7 linked regions of the Homo sapiens genome follow. The protein of the gene in region 4 purifies or fractionates together with the protein of the main gene of each other region. This does not show direct contact. Each region holds a gene or a part of one and is shown on either strand. Other genes may lie near its edges. The genes, in order: CDK5RAP2, ZNF385A, DHX15, CEP57, PRKAR2B, DSC1 and HRNR.

Region 1 (3,500 bases), on a different chromosome or scaffold from region 4:
CTCAAGTCCATTTTGGAAATAGGTGGGCTACAGATATATAACAAGACAAAGGAAATATACTGAAATATTAAAAATCATCATTAGTAGGGAAATGAGAGGTTTTCTTCCTTTTTAATGTTATATAATTCTCAATTTCCTCCAATAAACATCACTAAAAGGACAAAGTCAATTTTCTAAACTGAATTTTAAAAACTAAAATCAAGTTCAACCATCACCTTTTGCAGATGGTGGTCCAGAAGCCCAAGGTCACATACACCAGGTTATTGGCCAAGCTCAGCCTAAGGTCTGGTCCTGCATTCTCAATCTGGGGTTCTCTCCGGGTACCAGAGCCATTACATTAACTCCCACTGGCTAAAACTGCCCATGAATAACTCAAGCCAAGATCAATCACAGCTGAAAAGTACCTAGCAAACAAAGCCAAAGATTCTGGTCTTAGACAAGCTTCCTACAGGCAAACACTGAAGTTTGAAAAATGACATCTGACATCCCAACTCTTAGACAAAACCACTATGTAATGCAGAAATTTTTGCTTGGATCCTGCCAAATTTCCACTCGGGCTTTACCTACCCACTTTTAAAATGCTATGAATCTGTCATCTGCACCCTCCAGTCAGTTCCAACTACACCTCCAGCCACAAGCAGCTCCCTCTTTCCATTCTAATCATTCACTTGTAGCCTTATAATTAAGGCTGGGGCCTCAGGGATACTCACGAGAAATGACAATGTAAGCAAAACAAAAGGGCTCAGATATGATCTTATTCCACAGATGAGAAGACTGAAACCCAGAAATGGGTTAGGAACTTATTTACTCAAAATCACAAAAGTTAGTGGCAAAGCCAAGCCCAAAATCCAGGATCCCAGTGTCTTTTCCACTTGCTAGCCTGTGTGTGGACTGCCCAAAGCTCCTATATAAATGTGACACATGGTGGAGTACCAGTTTCCTCACGTGCAAAATAAAGCACAATCTAAGAAACCTGCCCTTGTATGGGGCACCCATGCTGCACAAGCACCACACTCAGCACAGGACAGGCAGCCTTCCCTTTCATCCTCACCACAGGATTAAAGTCCATTTTCTAAACTGAATGTTTGAAACTAAAATCAGGTTTAATCCTCACTATAGTCTTTCTGCGGCTGGTGGTACTTTTTAATGTTGCCTTTTTTTTTTTTTTTTTTAATGAGGAAACAAAGACCAAAAAGTTAATAGGCTGGAAACTCCAAGCCAGCCTGACTTTAAACCCCCTGCTGTGAACCTACACCACCCTGGTACCCCTGACGCCTTCCCGGAGGTTGGGGGTGGCAGGGGTGTGGTGGTGGTTAAGGGCCGAATGGACTGAGGCATAAAATTTCCATCACTCAGCACAGGGCACAGCCATCATAACGACTGTTTTGTTTTGTTTTGGTTTTTTGGAGACTCTCACTCTATCGCCCAGGCTGGAGTGCAGTGGCGTGATCTCAGCTCATTGCAACCTCCACCTTCCATATTCAAGCGATTCTCGTGCCTCAGCCTCCCAAGTAGCTAGGATTACAGGCATGCACCACCACGCCCGGCTAATTTTTTGTACTTTTAGTAGAGATGGAGATTCACCACGTTGGCCAGGCTGGTCTTGAACTCCTGAGCTCAGGTGACCTGACCGCCTCAGCCTCCCAAAGTGCTAGGATTACAGGCGTGAGCCACCGCGCCCAGCTGTAGCAACTGTTTGTGGATAATTTTTGAGTGACTGAATGGACCTTCACCTGAGCTCCACCACCTCATCCTCCTATCTTGCTCTATTGCTACCGAAAAGGACTGACCTCTTTCTATGCCTACATATGCCAGCAACAATTGTCCACTCAAACCATAAGACCCAAGGGGTCTTATGTCTCCTTGACAAATTGTTTCATGAGAGTCATGGATGAGACCAGATATCACATTCTGACAACGATTACACAAACAAACTCACTTTTGTCTTTTAACAACCCCTTTTTCATTCTATTTTATTCTTAATTAGAGAAAAATACATAAATTTAAAAAAATACAGATAAGCCTAAAGTTCTCCTTGGCTCCTCCTCGCTCCCATCTAGAACCCGCCTAGGAGGTAATCACTGTTTTCAAAAAGACCTATAACTTCCAGAACTTTTTATGTGTTTTTACATAGATAGTTTCAATTTTGCTGCTTAAAAACACATGCAATCAAACAGTATACATCATGCTACAACATCCTTCTTCTACTTAATATGCCCTCATGATGTTTTCATGACAGTACAAATAGATATGCCTCAAAGTTTTCAACTCCTACAAAGCTTTCTACAGCAGTGTTCTTCAAACCTTACTGACCATGAGCCACAGAAGAAATATTATTACCCTTCATCCTTGAAATGTTTTCTATTCTGTTCTATTTTTCTAAATCCTGGTTGCAACCTACTAAATTGAATTTCATGAGCTACCAACGGGCCACAGTCTGAAAGATACTTTTGAAAGGATGTGTATTTACCCAATCCCCTACTGATGATAATTCAATTTGTTTCCAAGTTTTTCTTTTACATGCAATGTCATATGAATGTCCTTATAAGGTCCCATATGCACAAGTATGAGGATTTCTCTAGAATAGATGACAAGAAGTGGAATTGCTGGGTCAAAATATATTCACGTTTTTTAAATGGACGATGGATTTGAATACACATTTCTCCAAAGAAAGTGAACAAATGGCTAAAAGGCACATGGAAAGATGCTCAACACATCAGTAGCCATTAACATGTAATCAATACCACAATGAGGGCCAGGCGGGGTGGCTCACTCCTGTAACCCAGCACTTTGGGAGGCCAAGGCGGGCAGATCACCTGAGGTCAAGAGTTCGACACCAGCCTGGCCAACATGGTGAAACCCCGTCTCTACTAAAAATATAAAAATTAGCCGAGCATGGTGGCACGTGCCTGTAGTCCCAGCTACTTGGGAGGCTGAGGCACCAGAACCGCTTGAACCCACGAGGCAGAGGTTGCGGTGAGCCGAAATTGCGCCACTGCACTCCAGCCTGGGCAAGGGAGTGAGACTCTGTCTCAACGACAAAAAAAAAAAGACCACAATGAGATACCTACCATGTCACACCCAAAGGATGGCTATAATCAAAAGGACAATAAAAATATCAGTGAAGGGCAGGCACAGTGGCTTGTGTCTGTAATCCCAGCTCTTAGCAAGGCAGAAGCAGGAGGATCACTTGAGCCCAGGAATTTAAGACCAGCATGGGTAACAGAGCAAGACTGTCTCTAAAAAAAATTAAAAACAAAAGCCTTAAAAAGGAAAGAAATTCTGACACATACTACAACACGCATGAACCTTGAGGACATAATGCTAAGTTAAATAAACCAGTCACAGAAGGACAAATAGTGTATGATTCTACTTATACGCGACACTTAGAGTAGTCAAAATCATAGAGACAGGCTGGGCGCAATGGCACATACCTATAATCCCAGCACTCTGGGAGGCCGAGGCAGGCACAACACTTGAGGCCAGGAGTTCAAGACCAG
Region 2 (3,500 bases), on a different chromosome or scaffold from region 4:
GATGGGGGAGGGGAGGGTAGGGCAAAAAGTGGGAAGGGCTATCTGCTGTTGGCTCCCTGCCCCTCTAGTCTTCCACCATCCACCAGTGAGTGGAGCCAGGGTTGATAGACAGGATGCCTGGGGTCCAAGCTAAAGCAGAGGCCTGATGCTGGGTTAGTCCTGTCTTCCCTTCCCCACCCTGCTCCACTCCCATGTATACCCCTGCTAAGAATGTACCATCCTGGAGGCACAGGGTCACCCAGACAAGGGCAGAAATAAAAGGTGTGGATAGGCAGGAAAAGAAGATTGACAGCCCAGGGGTAAAGTAGCAGTGTGCAGAGCCCAGTAGTATGGAGTGTGTGTGTGTGTGTGTGTCTCTGTACTGGGTAGAGAAACAGAACATGCTTTTATTTTCCCCTACTCAGCAGAACGAGGCTCTGCTGTTTTTCTCCAAAAGCTCTCAGGGCCTGCACCCCACAAAGTCCCCTCTAGAGCCACACACACTCCACAGAGTCCCAGTGGAGCCTCAGAGGGAGGAAATCTGGGAGGCTGAACATCTGGGTTTTGGGTTTGGGGTAGCTTCTCCCCAGGGGAAAGCCCCATGGGATAAGAGTAGGGGCCAGGCCTTGTGTGTGATTTGGAGGGAGGAGAGTAGAAATGGGGTGGAGAGAGAAGGAAGCCAGAAAGTTAGAGCGAAGTGGGTGGGCCAAGGAGGAGTTTAGCAGAGGCCAAAGAGGACAGAGGCTCTGTGGGGGAGCCAATGACCTAACTCTGCCCCATACCCAAGAACCAGTGGGCCAGAGGCCACACTCCTGCTCAGACACTGATGGCCACCTATGTTCCAAGAAGCTCTGAACCACGGATGCCCAAGTCTCAAGGGAGGGAGAGGTCAACTTTAGAGGACTGATCTACTTCATGTCAAAATACACAGCAACTTCTTGTGTCTCTCCAGTGCCTTCCACAAGACCCTGCCCCTCCTGCGGTATCCCCATTCCCTGCTCTTTGCCTAATATCCCCTTAATCCCTGCCCCTCAACCAGAGTAAGTGTTCTCACCCAGCCTCTGCCCTCCCTCAAGTTCCCCTGCTGCCCCTGCCCCACCCACTGGGTAGATGAGCAGCTTGGCTTCTTACCTGAGAATTGAAGCGGATTTGACAGATATTACAGGAAATGACGGGCCGCTTGGTCTTGAGCAAGGGTCCCCCAAAAGTGTGGGAGAGCACAGCCTTCTGCACAGGGTCCATCTGTGGAGGCAGGCTGGGGTGAGCCGGGAACCCTAGCGCAACTCATGTCCAGCATTCCCCCAACACAGATATCTGTGTTGAACCAAGGTCCCCAGACCCCTTCTATCCCTTAATATGCCTGAGGGATCTGAGCCTCAGTCTTCTGATTCTCTCTTAGCCCAATCTTCATAGCACTGAAAGGGACCTGATCGATAACTGGCCCAATGCTCCCATTTTACAGGACATAGAAGTGGTTTGCCCAACGTCACACCATGAGTTAATAGCAGATCTGGTATCTGAACCTGGATTCCTGCCTTGGTCCATCATACCATGAACATACAACTGTGTCACCTTGACTTATCTCCTACAGTGAAGCCAATCCACCAGAGGCCTCTGACATGAAGTCCCAAAGCACCCTAGATCCTAGGGCCTTCAGCTGAAGCCTCTGAGCCCTTTGGGCCTCCACTCTGGGGTAAGACTATCACCAAGCCCAGCCTCTAGTCCCAGGAGACAGATGTTCCCAGCCTCCCAACTCTGGATCCCTGGTCGCCCTAACACACACACTCTCTGGACCTCTTAAGGGCAGCAACTTCTAGAGGGAGTAAAAGAACTCAGGAGAGAGTAGGAGCTCTAGTGAATCATGGGGACTAAATGGGGGGACCTAAGCAGCTGGGCTGGCCCGAGGCAGCCCAGGGATCTTCTGAACCTTTTCTCCCTGATCATCAGGGTTTCTAGGGCAGAGCTGTGGGGCTGGGCGGGATTAGGAACCATCCCTGTCCCCACCCTGGGTCAGCAGACGTCTTTGCAGTCTCCTGCCAAGAGTTCACATGAGTAAGGGAGAGGACGGGAGTTTCTCTGAGGCTTTCTGCTATCAGGGGATGAAAACCAGGGGCTCAGAGGTGTGAAAACTGCCTCCCTCAACAGTTCTCCTCCCTTTTGGCCTCTAGGCAGCTAGGGAGAGGAAAGCCTGGAATGCAGCTGAGACTGAAGATTGGGGGATGGCTGGGCTCTCTCATAAGAATGGGACTGAATTAGGACAAAACCTTATCTTCTGGGTGGAGGGATCAAGTGAAAAATAGTTGCTGGGGACTTGGGGTCCTTATCTCCTCAGCCGAGCCCATCTCTGTGACAGGTCTTTAGGGTTTCCAATGAGACACTGGTGAGAGAACAAGAAGTGGGGGAAAGTAGTAAGAGTCTGGAAAGCCCTGTCCTCTGGACTCTCCTTTCCTCTCACCAGTAGTTTCACTGGCTGGGTGGGGTTAATGTCAGGAAATGGGCTTTCGTATCCCTGTGAAATAGATGGTGGCCTCATCCACTCTCCATTTGGGTAGTGCTGAAGGCAGGGACCAGGACTGGGTTCAGACAACTGGTCTGACTGACAAGTGTCAATCTCTTGGCCTACTCTTGGTTGGAAAGAAGCCTCTCTAAGGGCTCACTTTTTTTTACCTCAGCTTCCCAGAAGCCCCAGTCACATCCAGGGAAAAGCCAAACAGGAGAACGGGTGTGTCTGTGTGTGTTAGGCAGGCTGTGATCAATCTGTGCATGGGTGGAGTGTGAATAAGTGTCATGTACTGTGCGTACATCATTTATATATCAACATTTCTGCGTCGGGGGCTTTGATGGCACCATGAATGGTCAGGTGGTGTAATCTTCAGCTGTGTGTTTATCTGTGTAAATGTATGATGTGTTTGGCAGAAAGAAAGACAGACCAAGTTGGAGACAGTCTTTAATCAGAAAGGGGAGACAGACTGCTGCTCTCAGTTCCCAGTCTCCAGGCCTTAATCCTTCCTATTTAGAGACCCCCAACTCTGTTCCAGAGTTCTCCTCAGCCCTGGGCTTCCTCACATGCTGGGTGGGGAATGGGAATTCAAACAGAAACTCAAGTTGGGCCAGGAAACCCAAGTTGGATGAAAACAGTAGGGAGAGAGGAGTGGGATGGAAGGGGGAAGCAGAGTCTCCTAGTTCTGCCTATGCTCTGCCCCATCATGCCAGCCTGCTCTCCAGAGGGGCTGAGGACACAGTACCCCGAGGATGACTTGTGGACTGGCCACCCCAACATCCATACCATGAGAATGGTTCCTGCCCTACCTGGGTCCTTCCTCCAGGGTGAGAACCTTAGCTTTTGCACAACCCCCTCCCCTGGTTTAAGTCCATAAACACCAACTAGGAGTGGGAGTGGGGAGTGGGGAAGAGGGCAGCAGTGGAGTCAGGTGGGTGCTTCCCACCCTCCTCCAGGAACTAAGGAGACACCAGGATGAAAGTGAGGACTCCTGGGCCCAATCCCTGTGCAGGTGGAATGT
Region 3 (2,790 bases), on a different chromosome or scaffold from region 4:
CAAATGTACATTTTAACACACTATACAAATTATTTTGTATACTGCATAAAACTTCCATCACTAAGAATTTTGTTAAACTGAGATCTAAAATATGCTTTCCTCTTACCTAATACTAATAAACGTGTTTGAGAAGCTAGAAGTATAATAAAAACATCTGACAAAAATGTAGTTAATAAATTATGAGCCTTATGAAAGGAACTCTAAGAAAGACAAGTAGAGAGCTCTCCTTTCATTATTCTCTCTTTTGGGGTCCAGTTTCAAATGATCACTACACACATTTTACCCCTTTTAGATCGATCACATCCTGATTAACCTAACAAAGCGCTAAGCCATGCTCTTAAAAATACTGCTTTAACAGCTACTTTTCCTAAGGAGTACTCCTGGTAGAAAGATACTAAATATGTAGTAACAGTATAATTATAATAATAAAAAAGCTCCACACTTGAAAAACAACTATACTTAGAGACTAGAACAAAGATACCAAAGGGCTTTGGCCAAAATTAGTATAAATAGACTTTATTGAAGTCAGTGCCTCTGTACTGAGACAGAAGATTGTGTCTACATAAGCACAAGTTGTAACATTTCACAACTTCTAAAAGGAATGTCAACAATTACAACGATCATGCATACCATGGTCGATAATCACATTTTAGAAGCATTTTCAACCATTTCTAAAGAAATGCTTATAACATTGTTATATATAGAACTACTTTCAATAAACTGCAAAACATTGATCGACTTTTCCAGTATGAGCTACAGTGTCAACACAAAAGGGAGGCATAAATGTTTAATTTATGAAATCAGAATGGAATATTTACTGTAAAGAAAAATTAAAAAGCTTTCAAATAAAGGCCATTATCGAACCAACGTGAAGAGCACAACTCGAACTTTTGAGTTCATTCATCTTTTAAAGCTGTCCTCTCAATAACTTCAGTTCTAAGCACTGAATTCAGTACTGTGAATATTCCTTGGATTGAAGTTTGGCAATGATGCGGTCCAACTGTCTCTTTGCTTCACACTGTGGGAAATTGCTCATGTCATAATATTGAGGGGCAATTTTCACCAACCTGTTTAGAAGTGGGCAGAAAAATTTCCAAATTAACATTTAATTGAAGTACTGGAGTTGTTAATAGGATAGGCATTATTCATTAATATACTGATGAACCAAGGCAAATCTATGAATTCAAGTCTCAGAAAAATACAAATAACTAATCCTTACAAATAGCACTTTTAGAAATGTGTTAAGTATTTTATTTAGTAAGATGTGAATTTTCTGATGTTGGACTTACCATAAACTTAATAACAAACCCCTCAAGATACATTAATGTAAAGATAACAGATAAAGTCACTGATTTCTTTACTCTGGCACACTATTAATTTGCCACTCCAAGGATATAGTAATATATAACAGGTTCTGTGTAGGAAACATCGTGGTATTCAAATGATTGGATCTTTTCATTTTCAATGTTTTAATAACTGTAACTCTATACCCCCAAAATACACTTGACTGAAATCTTTTATAAAGTTTAGCTATATAATTTTTTTCTCAACAAAGCGTTTAAGATAAAATGGTAATGTCCTACACAATTTAAGTGTCAAAAGTCCCAAATCCGTATAAGAAAGCAGCTGCACAATATAAAGCGGTGACAGCACCTAGAATATGTGCCTTCAGTCCCACTACTCTTGGCTGACATTTCCTGTCATAGGTTATAGAATAGATTCTGGCATAAATAAAACAAAAAACCATGAAGGTGAGGGTTATTTTGCTTAAAATAAAACAATCCGTTCTTACTCTACATTTTGTAGAAGCTAGTATGTTAAAACACAAAGAGCTATCATTTTTATGCCTGCACAGTTCCTAAAAACCAATATATAAATAATAAATAGTTGAGGGCTAATTGTAATGGGACAAAAAAAATGTTAAAAAACAAAACAAAACAAAAAAAAACAGATTTCTGCAAGCAAGAAACAGTACTGACTTGAGAATCACAACAGCAAGAGAATGGCTCCAAAGAAACTCTAAAAATTAAAAAAATTAAAAAAAAACCCTTTTTTAAAAGTATGTCTGAGAGACAGGGTCTCACTGTCACCCAGGCTGGAGTACAGTGGCATGATCATAGCTCACTGCAACCTCAAACTCCTGGGCTCAAGCAATCCTCCTGCCCAGCTTCCCCAGTAGCTGGGACTATAGACGTGCAGCACCACCATGCCCAGCTAATTTTTGTACACACCTATATATCTTTTAGTAGAGATGGATTCTGGCTATATTGCACAGGCTGGTCTTGAACCCCTGGCTTCAAGTGATCCTCCCATCCTGGCCTCCCAGAGTCCTGGGATTACAGGTGTGAGCCACCATGCCCAGCCCCTGAAGAAACTTTTCATGCTATTCAAATGTAACTTCACATTTGGCTTCAAATCCTGCCCATAAATATCAACAATCCCACTGTCCACTTAACAAAGGAAGGGTGTGAAAGATTAATCACACCATCCAGTCAATTCCCTCATACCTACACACTGAAATATAAATTCTCAATGAGTGAATGCAAGGCCATGACTCTAGCAACAGTCAGGTTCCATTTTGAGCAAAGTACTAACAAAAAACTGTTAGAACAAAAGGTGTACTTACCATTCTGGCTTGATATCTGTACATGTCCGGATGTAATTCTTTGTTGTTAGAACAAACTCATTATAAAGCACCCATTCAGGTTTGTGGTCAAGAACAGTAGAGGGATGCAACTGAACCACCTGGTTATCTTTCACAGTTAAGTAATGCCCTGTTCGTTCTAAATG
Region 4 (3,500 bases):
TAAATATAAGATTTACTTTTTGAGAATAATAAAATGAATACCTTCATGTTCCTCTGTGTCTTCTTTCTCCTTCCCACACCCACCCACTACCACGTATTTTAAGATTATAATGTATGGTATTTATATAGGACTACCTGGCAAGGCATAATCCTTAAAGACCCTTTTCATGCATTAACTCATTTAATCCTCACAATAACCTTCTGAGATTGGCATTAATATTTCCTTTTTCAAATGAGCAAAATGAGGCACAGAGAGGTTGAGTCAAAGTTCTCTAGCTAGTAAATGACAGTATCTTAATGGGCTTTGGATTTAATGGGTTTTGCTGTTCATTTGTTTGCCAGATATTAGAAACAATCTTGTATTCATTGTTATATGCTGTACATGGCAAATGTTTCTCTAGAGTGCAGTTCTCGAAGTATGGTCTCACAACCCTTGGAGATCTCCAAGACCCTCTCAGAGTCTACAAGATCCTTCTGTAATGACCACGTTTGTGGTAGACTAGATCTTTAATAAGTCAAACAAAATAACATATCCAACAGAGCGAATGCAGAACTAGATAAGAGAATCCAGCATTCTTTTTTTAAAGCAAACATTAAAGAGATCTGCAGAAATGTAAAATAGTGCCATTCTTTTCACTAGATCTTTTAGAGTGTAAAGGGGTCCTGAGAGAAAAAGTTTGCAAGGGGCAACTCTAGGGCAGTGATTTTTCTTTTTTTTTTCCAGACCAGAGGCTGGGCTCTGGATTACAGCTCAGTAGTGGGTCATGGAATATGTACTGTGACTCAACCCGTATCATTTTCAAGAAAGAAGAGAGAGAAAATCGTTCAGCAAATATAACTGAATGAATTATCTGGTTCACAGAGTATGTGCGTCTTCAGCTTTACTCGGTCATACTAAATTGTTTTACCAAGTGATTATACCAACAACCCTCTTTATTTTATGTCCTCTTAAATGGATGGTATCGTCCCACTTGTAAATTTTTGCTGTGTGTGTGAAATGGTATCCTATTTTCTGATTTGTGCACCTCTTATCATTGGTGAGTATGCACCCTGTTTTTTTCAAACCTTTACTAGTGTGTGTGTGTGTGTTCTTCTGTGAAATACCTGTTCATGTCCTTTGCCTGTTTTTGTCTGTTAAGACTGTTCCAGAGACATCTTGGCTGGTCTTTGATATCTTTCGATTAATAGTTGTTGTTACTTTTAATGTAAAATTTGTTAGTCTTTTTATAATTAGTGATTTCTGTTTAAGAAATTCTTCCTTTCTCCAAGGCCTTGGTTGTATTCTTCTATATTTTTTTCCTACTTATTTTAAAGTTGAAGCCTTTTATGTCCTTAATTTACTTGAAATTAATTTGTATGCTGTGAGATAGGGATCCAGTGTAACGGTTTTACTTAAAATACACAATTGTCCCCACACTACTTGTTGAAAATTCATCCTATCCCCAATGGTTTGCAATATGTTCATTTCCATATGTGTATGGGTGTGTTACCTGGCTCTTTGTCCCTTTGTTGTATTTGTCTCTCCTACTTAGATACCCACTTGGAGGTGGGGGGGTCATTTACCTCCTTGTTACTCAAGAGAAATATTAGCTATTGTTGGTCCTTTGCTTTTCTTCAGTAGAAATTCTGGAACCTGCTGTTGGAATTTTGGTTTAGATTTTATTGAATTTCTAGCTTAATTTGGGTGTAACTGATACGTTTAGGATATTGACCCTTCTGTCTGAATGTTATGTTACTCCATTTATTTAGAACTTTAACATTTTTCAGTACTTGTATAATTTCATGTCTTGTATATTGTTCAGTTTATTTCTAGTTTTTAATTGTGTGATATATATTTTCATAAGTTGCATTTTCTAATATATAAAATTACTGACTCTTACATATCTATTTTACTCAGCAATCTTCCAGACTTAATTCTCATAATTGAGGATTTTTTGTTTTGTTCTATTTAGTCATGATACGAAATTGGGATTCTTCCTTTTCAATCTTAATAGCTGTTATTCTTTTTTTTTTTCTTAGTGTGCAGACTAGGGAAATGAAGTACAATGTTGACCAGAATTGATGTAGGTATCTTTGTCTTACTCCTGATTTTAAAAGGAATATTTCAAGTTTTCCACCATTAAGTATGTTTGCCATCTTTTCTTGTAAAACTTCATATTATCATAAGGAAGTAAGTTTTTTAAAAAATAATGGCTGGATGTTGAATTTTATTGAATGCTTTTCTACATTTGTTGACGATCGTATTGATATTTAGTTTGGAACTGTTGCATTGATTGCACTGCTCAGAGCTGTACATCATGTTCCTCCACCATTGGACCTTGACTTCTCCAATTTTATTTCCTCAACATGTGTACACAAACTCTTTTTTTCAGCTAAACTGATGTATTCATTAACCTGGAAATAATTGCCTTTTATATCCATTTCTAGCTTGCCTATCAGAATACATGTCAATCTACAAGACCCAGTATCGATTTCAGCACTAATAAAGACCTTCCTTTACCATACTGTTTTGAAGCAGTGTTCTGTTGAATGCATCTGAATTTAATTTGCACTTAGTCTCTATTACATCCAATTTACCAGTTCCCACCTACTGTTTTGTATTTGAGTTTTATCTAGGTAATATCTTGCAGCTGTGTTGCATGTGCCACTTATAAAGAAAGCAAGTAATATGCATTTTTAAATTATGCTTCATACTTCACACAGTGTCATAAAAAGATGTTCAATAAATATTTGAATTATGTGTTCCTAAATGAGATATTTGCCCTAAGAACTAAAGGCTGCAGGAAAAGCTAGTGATCAGGTTAAACATTTTGCCTTTAATCCTGAAAGTTTCTCCTACAATCATATTTTGGTTGGAATAATTTTTACTGAATGCTTAGGGTCATGGAGAGATTAGTGGATTGGGAGTTAGAATTGGGCTCCTTTCTACGCAGCCTTCCTATGATATTTGTGCTATTTGTTAAATATAAAGAAGCCCAAAAGCTTTTGGTGATCTCTTAAAGGGTTGTAGTGATTTTGTTGAAAAGGATAATCTTTTATAAGTAATGTGCAGTTTCCTGTTTTGCGGAGGAAATGTATAGTTAATATTCAACAGATTTATTGAACATAATAAAACTCCTTTATTAGAACTTAATTTCTCCAGCAAAAATTCTACACCAACTGGGTGTACTACAATTATTTTAATTCTGACACTGCCCAGATGTTGCTCAGACCCCCATACATTAAGGGGCTCCGTTTCACAAGACTGCCTGCCCCCAAGTCAGTCAGAGTTCGCAGAGCATCTGCATTTCTGCTCAGCTGACTACAAATTATGGGATTCCTGCAGCTTTCCAAGAACGGCTCACAGTACTCAGGAAAGACTGTTCTTAAGCAATTTCAGTTTTATAAAGGACACAACTCAGAAACAGCCAAATGGAGGAGACATAGGGCAAGGTGTGAAAGGGCTTCTGTATCCTCTGGTGCAGCACCTTCCCAGCATATCAGTATGTTCAACAATCTAGA
Region 5 (3,500 bases), on a different chromosome or scaffold from region 4:
GCAAAGCACAACACATACAGGAAAGACTTAGAAAGAGAGGGTATATTCCTGCACATTCTTGCCTACCTAGACTGAGGACCCTTGACATCTGCAAAGTTGACTGATGGAGGCCATATTCATCCTACCATATTGATAGTATTAACGTCAAGGAGGGAAACTTGCAAAAATATTTGGTAGGGTAAAATATAAACTAAACCTTTGGGAAAAGAGTGAGATTTAGCAGAAAGACAGGGAGAGGGGAGTGAGAATTCAGGACCAAGAGAATGACTTAAGACAAGAATATTTGGCTATATCAATTTAGAATCATGTCATGTGCCGCTATATACCGTGGTTTTTGTTTGTTTTGTTGTTTTGTTTTGTTTTGAGATGGAGTCTCACTCTGTCAAGCAGTGCTGCGATCTCAGCTCACTGCAAGCTCTGCCTCTCGGGTTCACGCCATTCTCCTGCCTCAGCCTCCCGAGTAGCTGGGACTACAGGCAACTGCCACCACGCCAGGCTAATTTTTTTGTGTGTATTTTTAGTAGAGACGGGGTTTCACCAAGTTAGTCAGGATGGTCTCGATTTCCTGACCTCATGATTCGCCCGCCTCGGCCTCCCAAAGTGCTGGGATTACAGGCTGTGAGCCACCACACACGGCCTACTGTGTTTTATTTACTACTTAATGCATATTTACAAAAGAATTGCCTTTCTTTCATGTATTTTTACACTTATTTAATAGGTAATCCAAGCACATGCTAAACATTTTTCAAAAGTTACAAGAAAGCAAATAGTGAACGATCTCTCTCCTAACAAAATAACCTGAAATACTCTATGAAATTGCATTTCTTTTCAACTATTCTAAACTTTAGACTTTCTTCTAATTCTGACTGGTATTTCCATAATTTACTGATTCCTAACCAGAAAACTATAATACGATTCTCTTTGTCCCATCCACAAATGTTGCACCAAAAACATTACCACTATACAATTGGAATTCAAGGTATATACAGGAAAACAGGTTTTAAAAGAAAAAGCCTGGATTTTCCCCTTCAGGTAACGTAGTTTTACTTCCTTTTTATAAGATAGAATTTTCCTCTGTATTCTGCCAACTTCTGTTGAGTCAATTAACTTACCGAGTGACTGTCTTTTAAAAAAGACACACACACACACACACACACACACACACACACACACACACACTCTTTATAATCTAGAAGCTTGAATCAGGGAACCAAAATTGATCATGGCTACTTTATATATTACTAGAGTATCAATTTAAGTGGTATTGTTTACAGCTGTAGTCTCCAAAACGGGGTTCATGTATGCCAAAACAGTGTATAAGGCTATATGTTGGGATGTAGGAGAAAATTACAACTTGCTTAGAATTGCTTTTTACTTTCTCCTTTCAAAATTTATATTGTAGGAAGCTTTATCATACATATAAGTCAATATATTGTCACATGTATAAAATTTATCAACATATATTGGGGTGTACACTCAAATATATTTTGCTAATAAAGGTATATAATAAAATAAATTTAGAGAATTAAGCAGCTCAGTACATGAGGTGATTATTTCTAAAATAAATAAATGTAGGCTGGGTGTGGTGGCTCTTGCCTATAATCCCAGTATTTTGGGAGGCTGAGGCAGGTGGGATCACTTGAGGCCAGGAGTTCCAGACCAGCCTTGCCAACATGGAAAAACCTTGTCTCTACCAAAAATACAAAAATTAGGCAGACATGGTGGCACACACCTGTAATCCCAGCTACTCAGGAAGCTGAGGCAGGAGAATCACTTGAACCCAGAGGCAGAGGCTGCAGTGAGCCAAGATGGCACCACTGCACTCCAGCCTGGGCAACAGAGCAAGACTCTGTCAAAAACAAAATAAAATAAAATAAACAAATGTACTGAGTTTCTAAGGTACATGAAATGCTAATTTGGGTTGAATAGACAGAGAATGCAAATTGTAAAAGGGAGAGATCAATGCAGGGCTAGCCTGCAAACTTTTAGAGGGAAAAGTAGGTAGCTTATTTTTTGATATGTGCTTATTTTCAACCACGTTACTGCTAAAAGAATTACTGAAATGAAGTGTATAAACCGTGGTTGAAGAGGAAGACCCTGAAGTCAGATTACCAGGTTCAAACCTTGATTCCACCAATTACTCTGGGGAAGACTAAATCACATATGTGTAAAGCATCTGTTCAGATGACAATGTGTAAAGCACTGTTCCACATCTGATACATCAGTAGTCAAAAATGTTAATAATAACTAGTATTAAATAAAAAGGACACCATTTATTTATTTTTTTGAGACAGAGTATACCTCTGTTGCCCAAGCTGGAGTGCAGTGGCGCAATCTCGGCTCACTGCAACCTCCGTCTCCAGGGTTCAAGCGATTCTCCTGCTTCAGCCTCCCAAGCAGCTGGGATTAAGGCGCCCGCCACCACGCCCAGCTAATTTTTGTATTTTTAGTAGAGATGGGGTTTCACCATGTTGGCCAGGCTGGTGTCCTATTCCTGACCTCAGGTGATCCGCCCGCATCGGCCTCCCAGAGTGCTGGGAATTATAGACATGAGCCACCGTGCCCGGCCTAAAAGGACACCATTTAAAAGACATTAGTTTTCTATAATAATGAGAACGAAACAGCCGAATCATGTTTTAATTCAACATGACCTTTGAAAAAGATGCTCTTTGGGTGTAACTGAAATATATTAGAACAAATGGAACAAACGGCTTTTTTCCTTCTCTTTTTACCCCCCAAATTCCCCTCAACATCACTCCCATGGACTATTTTGTCTTGGAACAGCTAATGTAAATTAAACAATGTCATCCTTAGTCAAACAGATACAGGAATAACTGTATACAGTATATCTTCTTGGCTTCACTTTTATGTGGAACATGTGTTTACATTTTGACCTTTTGTCTTTTTTTTAATTAAGAAACATTTTTAAACAGCAGCAACTGGAAAGACTTTTTTTTTTAGTTTCCAAACATATTAAGCTACACATGGCAGAGCCTATTGCTGAAACATTTATAAATGTTACACCAACTGTTTATAGTTCTGATTTTCTTATTTGATTGTTTTGTTGTCATGTAAGCCATGACCTGAAAATTTTAGCTCAAATTCTTTCCATAAAATTACATAATGAAACCGTCTGAGTCATTTTGAATTTGTGAAGCACAAAATTCGCTCTCATAAAATAATGATAAGCATCATAGTGAGGTTTTTAGAGTAGGATTTTGTGACTGTCCCAACCACAACTAGATGATATAGATAAGACAGGAAGGACAAGAACAGGATCAAGAACACAGTAACAATTCATTCAATTCAGAAAAATCACTGCATTCTTGTTTCTTTTCCATTGTCTCTTCTTAAGCAAGTGATAGGAAAATATAGTCTAATATTAGATTTCACTTCATTGAAAAAGAATCAAAGAACAAAAAAACCTGGAAATTCTGAAGACAAAAGTACTTTTCTTTAGCCCATCCTTTTAAACCTTATCAATCAACTTGATGGAAGAC
Region 6 (3,500 bases), on a different chromosome or scaffold from region 4:
CAATGGTAGCCATATTCCAGTGCTTTCTCAGAACTCTTTGCTAATACTTTGGCTCACACACTGAACTGCAAAAGTAGCATAGTAAGTTGTATTCACCTTGAGAGCCTAGTGATTTGCCCAGTATTTCCCAGCTAACTATAACTTAATACTGACACATTGAACATAATGCAGTTCCTATTTTTATACTTGAAAACATTTAATTGAATAAGCCAGAAAAATAAGTTTTCATCTCTACCCTAATGCAATTCATATGTTCTTGACAACAGGAACTGTCTCGTACTCATCTGTTGATTGCCACTATTATTGGCCTAAGACTTCACACATAGTATTTTTAGTTAAAATAGTGCCCATTATTTGTGTTTAAGAGATAATGAAGTTCAGAAACATGTCAAATCCCACCATTTGTAAAAGGATAATAAACTACAATAAATGATAAGATATCAAAATTGAAATAAACAGAAAGGTAATTGATGTAATTTTTCATGTTTTTGCTTTAAATACTGGTCCACATTTTGAAACATGTATGTTGAATTTATCATAAAGACTACTATAACTCCCATGCAAATATAATTTATTTTTCTTTTTAATTTGAAATAACCCTAAGTCATATCATGTAGTGTATTTCAAAAGAATTTTTTCTGTTGAATAACTACAAAATTAATTTATTCAGTGACTTTTAAACTAATTGTTTGTATAAAGTAACTACTATTTATGCCTATTTTAAAACTACCTGAACAAATTTAAAAATATCCAGAAATAAAAGAGAGATATAGCTATTTGTTGAAGAAATTTGCAATAGCATATAAATACTTTGAGACTGCCAGAAAATAGCAAATAAAGTTGAATATAAGTAATAACTTTAAAATCAGCAAACTAAGAAATGAATAATATGAAAAAGAGGCCTTATAAAGTAAAAAATTTAGTTGCATACACTACACATGAGTTGATATATATACTATAATTTCACCTTTTAAAATTTAAGCAGAAAGCCTTTCTCTTTATAGAAAAATCGTAAGAAAACACACTTTAAAAATCCAAAAAAAGTGGTAATTATAGTAACGCAAATCAAGATTTATTTAATCACATATTCAACCAACATTTATCCCATAACTTACTATTTTCTATTACAGTCTCTGCTTTAAGCATGTTGATAAAAACAGATGAAAGATGCTTGAAATGATTTAAATGGAAGGCAATCAAAGACAAAGCTGAGAAGGTCTTAGAACAGGGGTGTCCAATCTTTTGGCTTCCCTGGGCCACACTGAAAACAGAAGAATTGTCTTGGGCCACACATAAAATACACTAACACCAATGATAGCTGATGAGCTAAAAAATATATGTTGCAAACAAATCTTATAATGTTTCAAGAAAGTTTATGAATTTTTGTTGGGCCACATTCAAAGCCACGCTGGGCTGCATGCTGCCTGCAGGCCACAGGTTGGACAAGCTTGTCTTAGAAGATATCAAAAATTACAAGAGGTTGATGGTAAGTTTTTATTTTACCCCTGGGAAGAGGTAAACAGCCAAAAATAAGTAATTACTGATAATAGCTGAGCATGATGAAGTCATTGGTGTGTTTATTTACTTCTAAAATTTACTTTAAATTAAGCACATAAGCAAACATCAAGTATAAATGAGTAAGAAACACCAATCACAGAGCTAGAAAGTACATCTTGGGTTAACTAAAAATCTTCATAATACTTCAACAGCAATTCTGGAAAGCAGTCGTTTTTTATTGCTACTCAAATGTTTCAGTAACTAGAATCACTGTATTATAAATCAGCCTACTCTATAAATTTTAAAATTAATTGTTAAAAGATTTAAATTTTTAATTATTAAGCTACAATATGCCTCCTAATGATTTCCTGTAATTTGTTCATGTTCTTTTTGGACTATACATGCAAAATGTTTGCCACTTGTACATGACAACCCTTAAATATTTGTTCTCTTAAGAAAATCCTTCTTACAGAAGGGAAAAATAAAGAAGCACTTAATAAATGTTTAATCTCAATTTTCTACATTAAAATCAGTTTTCCCAAGTGCTAATTATGTCCCTAGAATTGTAAAGCTTTTTGCAGTGAAATGTATAACGTGGAGATTCATAGGACTCTCAAACAACAAAGGAATGACAAATATCAGCACCTGCACTGTGCATATGTATACCACATTTTCTGCCAGATACTTGGAAAGGGACGATTTACAAAGAAAAAGGGTCTTTATACAAAATTGAACTCATAATTAAGCTTGTTAGGAGAACAGAATATACATGAGAAACAATGAAAGCAGCCTTTTCTACAGAAGCCACACCATATATGATAATTGTTATCCCCAGTTCAAAAGGTATTTAGAGAAGAACTGAATCCAGACTAATGGAAACAATCACAAACCTTGTCATTGCCATTTATTTGAAGAAGTTAAGGGGCCTGAATTTCAGACAGGAGGAGCAATGCTACTCTAGGTGGAAGGTATGTAAAACAATGCTTTCTCGACTGACAGCAGGGACATCAGCCAGACTGACAGAGGATTGACACAAGAAAGAAAGTTGGATTCTAAGACAGGTAGAATACCTAGATCATCATCCAGGAATAATCATGAGCATCAGAGCAAAATGTGTGTGTGTGTGTGTGTGTGTGTGTGTGTGTGTGTGTGTGTGGATTAAAGTTCAAAGAAACAAAATCCATCATATCACTATATGGTTTTTCACTAAAATGTGTAACATCCTTATCTTTACTTTTTTATTAAACACACCCAGGTTATCTACGGCCCTGGAATGTAGATTTGTTAAAGTTTGCTTTTTATTTTCTACACTACATTCACTGTGCTTACAGACTTTGTCTTTTAGCACCAAAAAACAAAGTTACTTTTTAAATACTTTGTTCTCCATAATTTTCTCCTCTCCAGATAGCATTTTATTTTTAAAAAATTAGGCCTCTGCATTTCTGTAATCTCTTCTCTTTCATCCTTAATCTGAGCAGGTCTTAACTGATCGCCACTTCTGATAATATTCATACATTCTTTTTGAGGAAAGTTCTCACATCATAGAATCTCTTGTGAAACTATAATAATTCTATAGTTGATATCGTGTAAGAATTTGGCCTTATCTTAACATTCTTAATTTCCATGTCAGCTTGTCTAATACTTAGAACTTAATAGACAAACCACCAGTTGGGGAATAAATGAGTAAACATAAAGTCTTCTTTGCCAACATAGAAAAAAGTAGGGGTATAATATCTGAGAACACATTGTTTGCATTTTGTTATTAAAAAAAAAAACAAAGGGACAAATAAATAAGCATGAACATTTTCACTACTACCAACTTATATTAATTACCATGGAATTTCATATGTATTTATTAATACAGTCAACCATTCCTTCTAAAGAAATGCAATAGACACAGGAAAAAAAAACCCATAGCATTGTATCAGCTAGTTTGTTTTGAACATCCAGCATATGCATGTAAAAAGAGTGGAAACCTTCTTGGATTAGGCAGGTAGTCAAAC
Region 7 (3,500 bases), on a different chromosome or scaffold from region 4:
GCATGGTTCTACATCAGGACAGTCATCAACCTTTGACCAGGAGGGATCTAGCACAGGCCAGTCTTCCAGCTATGGCCACCGTGGCTCTGGCTCCAGTCAGTCTTCTGGCTATGGCCGACATGGGGCTGGATCTGGCCAGTCTCCTAGTCGCGGCCGACATGGGTCCGGTTCTGGGCACTCTTCCAGCTACGGCCAACATGGGTCTGGCTCCGGTTGGTCTTCCAGCAGTGGCCGACATGGGTCTGGCTCAGGTCAGTCTTCTGGATTTGGTCACCACGAGTCTAGCTCATGGCAGTCCTCTGGTTGCACTCAGCATGGATCTGGCTCAGGTCACTCCTCCAGCTACGAACAACACGGCTCTAGGTCAGGACAGTCATCTAGGGGTGAACGACACGGATCTAGCTCAGGTTCATCTTCCAGCTATGGTCAGCATGGGTCTGGCTCCCGTCAGTCTTTGGGCCACGGCCAACATGGGTCTGGATCTGGCCAGTCTCCTAGCCCTAGCCGTGGCCGACATGGGTCTGGTTCTGGGCAGTCTTCCAGCTACAGCCCATATGGGTCTGGCTCAGGGTGGTCTTCCAGCCGTGGCCCATATGAGTCTGGCTCCAGTCACTCTTCTGGCTTAGGTCACCGAGAGTCTCGCTCAGGACAGTCCTCTGGCTACGGTCAACATGGATCTAGCTCAGGTCATTCCTCTACCCATGGGCAACATGGTTCTACATCAGGACAGTCATCGAGCTGTGGCCAACATGGAGCTAGCTCAGGTCAGTCTTCCAGCCACGGTCAGCATGGCTCTGGCTCAAGTCAGTCTTCTGGCTATGGCCGACAGGGCTCTGGATCTGGCCAGTCTCCAGGCCACGGCCAGCGTGGGTCTGGGTCAAGGCAGTCTCCCAGCTACGGCCGACATGGGTCTGGCTCCGGTCGGTCTTCCAGCAGTGGCCAACATGGGTCTGGCTTAGGCGAGTCTTCTGGCTTTGGTCACCACGAGTCTAGCTCAGGGCAGTCCTCTAGTTACAGTCAGCATGGGTCTGGCTCAGGTCACTCCTCTGGCTACGGACAACACGGCTCTAGATCAGGACAGTCATCTAGGGGTGAACGACACGGATCTAGCTCACGTTCGTCTTCCCGCTATGGTCAGCATGGGTCTGGCTCCCGTCAGTCTTCGGGCCACGGCCGACAAGGGTCTGGATCTGGCCAGTCCCCTAGCCGCGGCCGACATGGGTCCGGTTTGGGGCACTCCTCCAGCCACGGCCAACATGGGTCTGGCTCAGGTCGTTCTTCCAGCCGTGGCCCATATGAGTCTCGCTCGGGTCACTCTTCTGTCTTTGGTCAACATGAGTCTGGCTCAGGACATTCCTCTGCTTACAGTCAGCATGGTAGTGGCTCAGGGCACTTCTGTAGCCAAGGACAGCATGGTTCTACATCAGGACAGTCATCAACCTTTGACCAGGAGGGATCTAGCACAGGTCAGTCTTCCAGCCACGGTCAGCATGGCTCTGGCTCAAGTCAGTCTTCTAGCTATGGCCAACAGGGCTCTGGATCTGGCCAGTCTCCTAGTCGCGGCCGACATGGGTCCGGTTCCGGGCACTCTTCCAGCTACGGCCAACATGGGTCTGGCTCCGGTTGGTCTTCCAGCAGTGGCCGACATGGGTCTGGCTCAGGTCAGTCTTCTGGATTTGGTCACCATGAGTCTAGCTCATGGCAGTCCTCTGGTTACACTCAGCATGGATCTGGCTCAGGTCACTCCTCCAGCTACGAACAACACGGCTCTAGGTCAGGACAGTCATCTAGGGGTGAACAACACGGATCTAGCTCAGGTTCATCTTCCAGCTATGGTCAGCATGGGTCTGGCTCCCGTCAGTCTTTGGGCCACGGCCAACATGGGTCTGGATCTGGCCAGTCTCCTAGCCCTAGCCGTGGCCGACATGGGTCTGGTTCTGGGCAGTCTTCCAGCTACGGCCCATATGGGTCTGGCTCAGGGTGGTCTTCCAGCCGTGGCCCATATGAGTCTGGCTCCGGTCACTCTTCTGGCTTAGGTCACCGAGAGTCTCGCTCAGGACAGTCCTCTGGCTACGGTCAACATGGATCTAGCTCAGGTCATTCCTCTACCCATGGGCAACATGGTTCTGCATCAGGACAGTCATCGAGCTGTGGCCAACATGGAGCTAGCTCAGGTCAGTCTTCCAGCCACGGTCAGCATGGCTCTGGCTCAAGTCAGTCTTCTGGCTATGGCCGACAGGGCTCTGGATCTGGCCAGTCTCCAGGCCACGGCCAGCGTGGGTCTGGGTCAAGGCAGTCTCCCAGCTATGGCCGACATGGGTCTGGCTCCGGTCGGTCTTCCAGCAGTGGCCAACATGGGCCTGGCTTAGGCGAGTCTTCTGGCTTTGGTCACCACGAGTCTAGCTCAGGGCAGTCCTCTAGTTACAGTCAGCATGGGTCTGGCTCAGGTCACTCCTCTGGCTACGGACAACACGGCTCTAGATCAGGACAGTCATCTAGGGGTGAACGACACGGATCTAGCTCAGGTTCGTCTTCCCGCTATGGTCAGCATGGGTCTGGCTCCCGTCAGTCTTCGGGCCACGGCCGACAAGGGTCTGGATCTGGCCATTCCCCTAGCCGCGGCCGACATGGGTCCGGTTCGGGGCACTCCTCCAGCCACGGCCAACATGGGTCTGGCTCAGGTCGTTCTTCCAGCCGTGGCCCATATGAGTCTCGCTCGGGTCACTCTTCTGTCTTTGGTCAACATGAGTCTGGCTCAGGACATTCCTCTGCTTACAGTCAGCATGGTAGTGGCTCAGGGCACTTCTGTAGCCAAGGACAGCATGGTTCTACATCAGGACAGTCATCAACCTTTGACCAGGAGGGATCTAGCACAGGTCAGTCTTCCAGCCACGGTCAGCATGGCTCTGGCTCAAGTCAGTCTTCTAGCTATGGCCAACAGGGCTCTGGATCTGGCCAGTCTCCTAGTCGCGGCCGACATGGGTCCGGTTCCGGGCACTCTTCCAGCTACGGCCAACATGGGTCTGGCTCCGGTTGGTCTTCCAGCAGTGGCCGACATGGGTCTGGCTCAGGTCAGTCTTCTGGATTTGGTCACCACGAGTCTAGCTCATGGCAGTCCTCTGGTTACACTCAGCATGGATCTGGCTCAGGTCACTCCTCCAGCTACGAACAACACGGCTCTAGGTCAGGACAGTCATCTAGGGGTGAACGACACGGATCTAGCTCAGGTTCATCTTCCAGCTATGGTCAGCATGGGTCTGGCTCCCGTCAGTCTTTGGGCCACGGCCAACATGGGTCTGGATCTGGCCAGTCTCCTAGCCCTAGCCGTGGCCGACATGGGTCTGGTTCTGGGCAGTCTTCCAGCTACAGCCCATATGGGTCTGGCTCAGGGTGGTCTTCCAGCCGTGGCCCATATGAGTCTGGCTCCGGTCACTCTTCTGGCTTAGGTCACCGAGAGTCTCGCTCAGGACAGTCCTCTGGCTACGGTCAACATGGATCTA

Evidence for each region.
Region 1: the proteins of CEP57 (region 4) and CDK5RAP2 purify together in Homo sapiens (co-immunoprecipitation; 2 studies listed by BioGRID and IntAct, with this or other methods). This does not show direct contact.
Region 2: the proteins of CEP57 (region 4) and ZNF385A purify together in Homo sapiens (affinity purification with mass spectrometry, with the first as the bait; one large-scale study listed by BioGRID). This does not show direct contact.
Region 3: the proteins of CEP57 (region 4) and DHX15 purify together in Homo sapiens (affinity purification with mass spectrometry, with the first as the bait; one large-scale study listed by BioGRID). This does not show direct contact.
Region 5: the proteins of CEP57 (region 4) and PRKAR2B purify together in Homo sapiens (affinity purification with mass spectrometry; one large-scale study listed by BioGRID and IntAct). This does not show direct contact.
Region 6: the proteins of CEP57 (region 4) and DSC1 purify together in Homo sapiens (affinity purification with mass spectrometry, with the first as the bait; one large-scale study listed by BioGRID). This does not show direct contact.
Region 7: the proteins of CEP57 (region 4) and HRNR purify together in Homo sapiens (affinity purification with mass spectrometry, with the first as the bait; one large-scale study listed by BioGRID). This does not show direct contact.

The regions. Positions count from the first base shown.
Region 1 is NC_000009.12:120,573,668-120,577,167, forward strand, and holds part of CDK5RAP2 (CDK5 regulatory subunit-associated protein 2), read right to left. Parts: intron 1-3,500. UniProt on the Homo sapiens protein: Potential regulator of CDK5 activity via its interaction with CDK5R1. Negative regulator of centriole disengagement (licensing) which maintains centriole engagement and cohesion. Involved in regulation of mitotic spindle orientation.
Region 2 is NC_000012.12:54,374,734-54,378,233, forward strand, and holds part of ZNF385A (zinc finger protein 385A), read right to left. Parts: intron 1,222-3,500; coding exon 1,111-1,221; intron 1-1,110. UniProt on the Homo sapiens protein: RNA-binding protein that affects the localization and the translation of a subset of mRNA. May play a role in adipogenesis through binding to the 3'-UTR of CEBPA mRNA and regulation of its translation.
Region 3 is NC_000004.12:24,526,975-24,529,764, forward strand, and holds the end of DHX15 (ATP-dependent RNA helicase DHX15), read right to left. Parts: coding exon 2,627-2,790; intron 1,068-2,626; coding exon 950-1,067; 3' UTR 501-949; downstream 1-500.
Region 4 is NC_000011.10:95,793,498-95,796,997, forward strand, and holds part of CEP57 (centrosomal protein of 57 kDa), read left to right. Parts: intron 1-723; exon of another isoform or gene 724-1,036; intron 1,037-2,018; exon of another isoform or gene 2,019-2,044; coding exon of another isoform or gene 2,045-2,062; intron 2,063-3,500. UniProt on the Homo sapiens protein: Centrosomal protein which may be required for microtubule attachment to centrosomes. May act by forming ring-like structures around microtubules. Mediates nuclear translocation and mitogenic activity of the internalized growth factor FGF2, but that of FGF1.
Region 5 is NC_000007.14:107,051,205-107,054,704, reverse strand, and holds part of PRKAR2B (cAMP-dependent protein kinase type II-beta regulatory subunit), read right to left. Parts: intron 1-3,500. UniProt on the Homo sapiens protein: Regulatory subunit of the cAMP-dependent protein kinases involved in cAMP signaling in cells. Type II regulatory chains mediate membrane association by binding to anchoring proteins, including the MAP2 kinase.
Region 6 is NC_000018.10:31,135,357-31,138,856, forward strand, and holds part of DSC1 (desmocollin-1 isoform Dsc1a preproprotein), read right to left. Parts: intron 1-3,500. UniProt on the Homo sapiens protein: A component of desmosome cell-cell junctions which are required for positive regulation of cellular adhesion.
Region 7 is NC_000001.11:152,214,194-152,217,693, reverse strand, and holds part of HRNR (hornerin), read left to right. Parts: coding exon 1-3,500. UniProt on the Homo sapiens protein: Component of the epidermal cornified cell envelopes.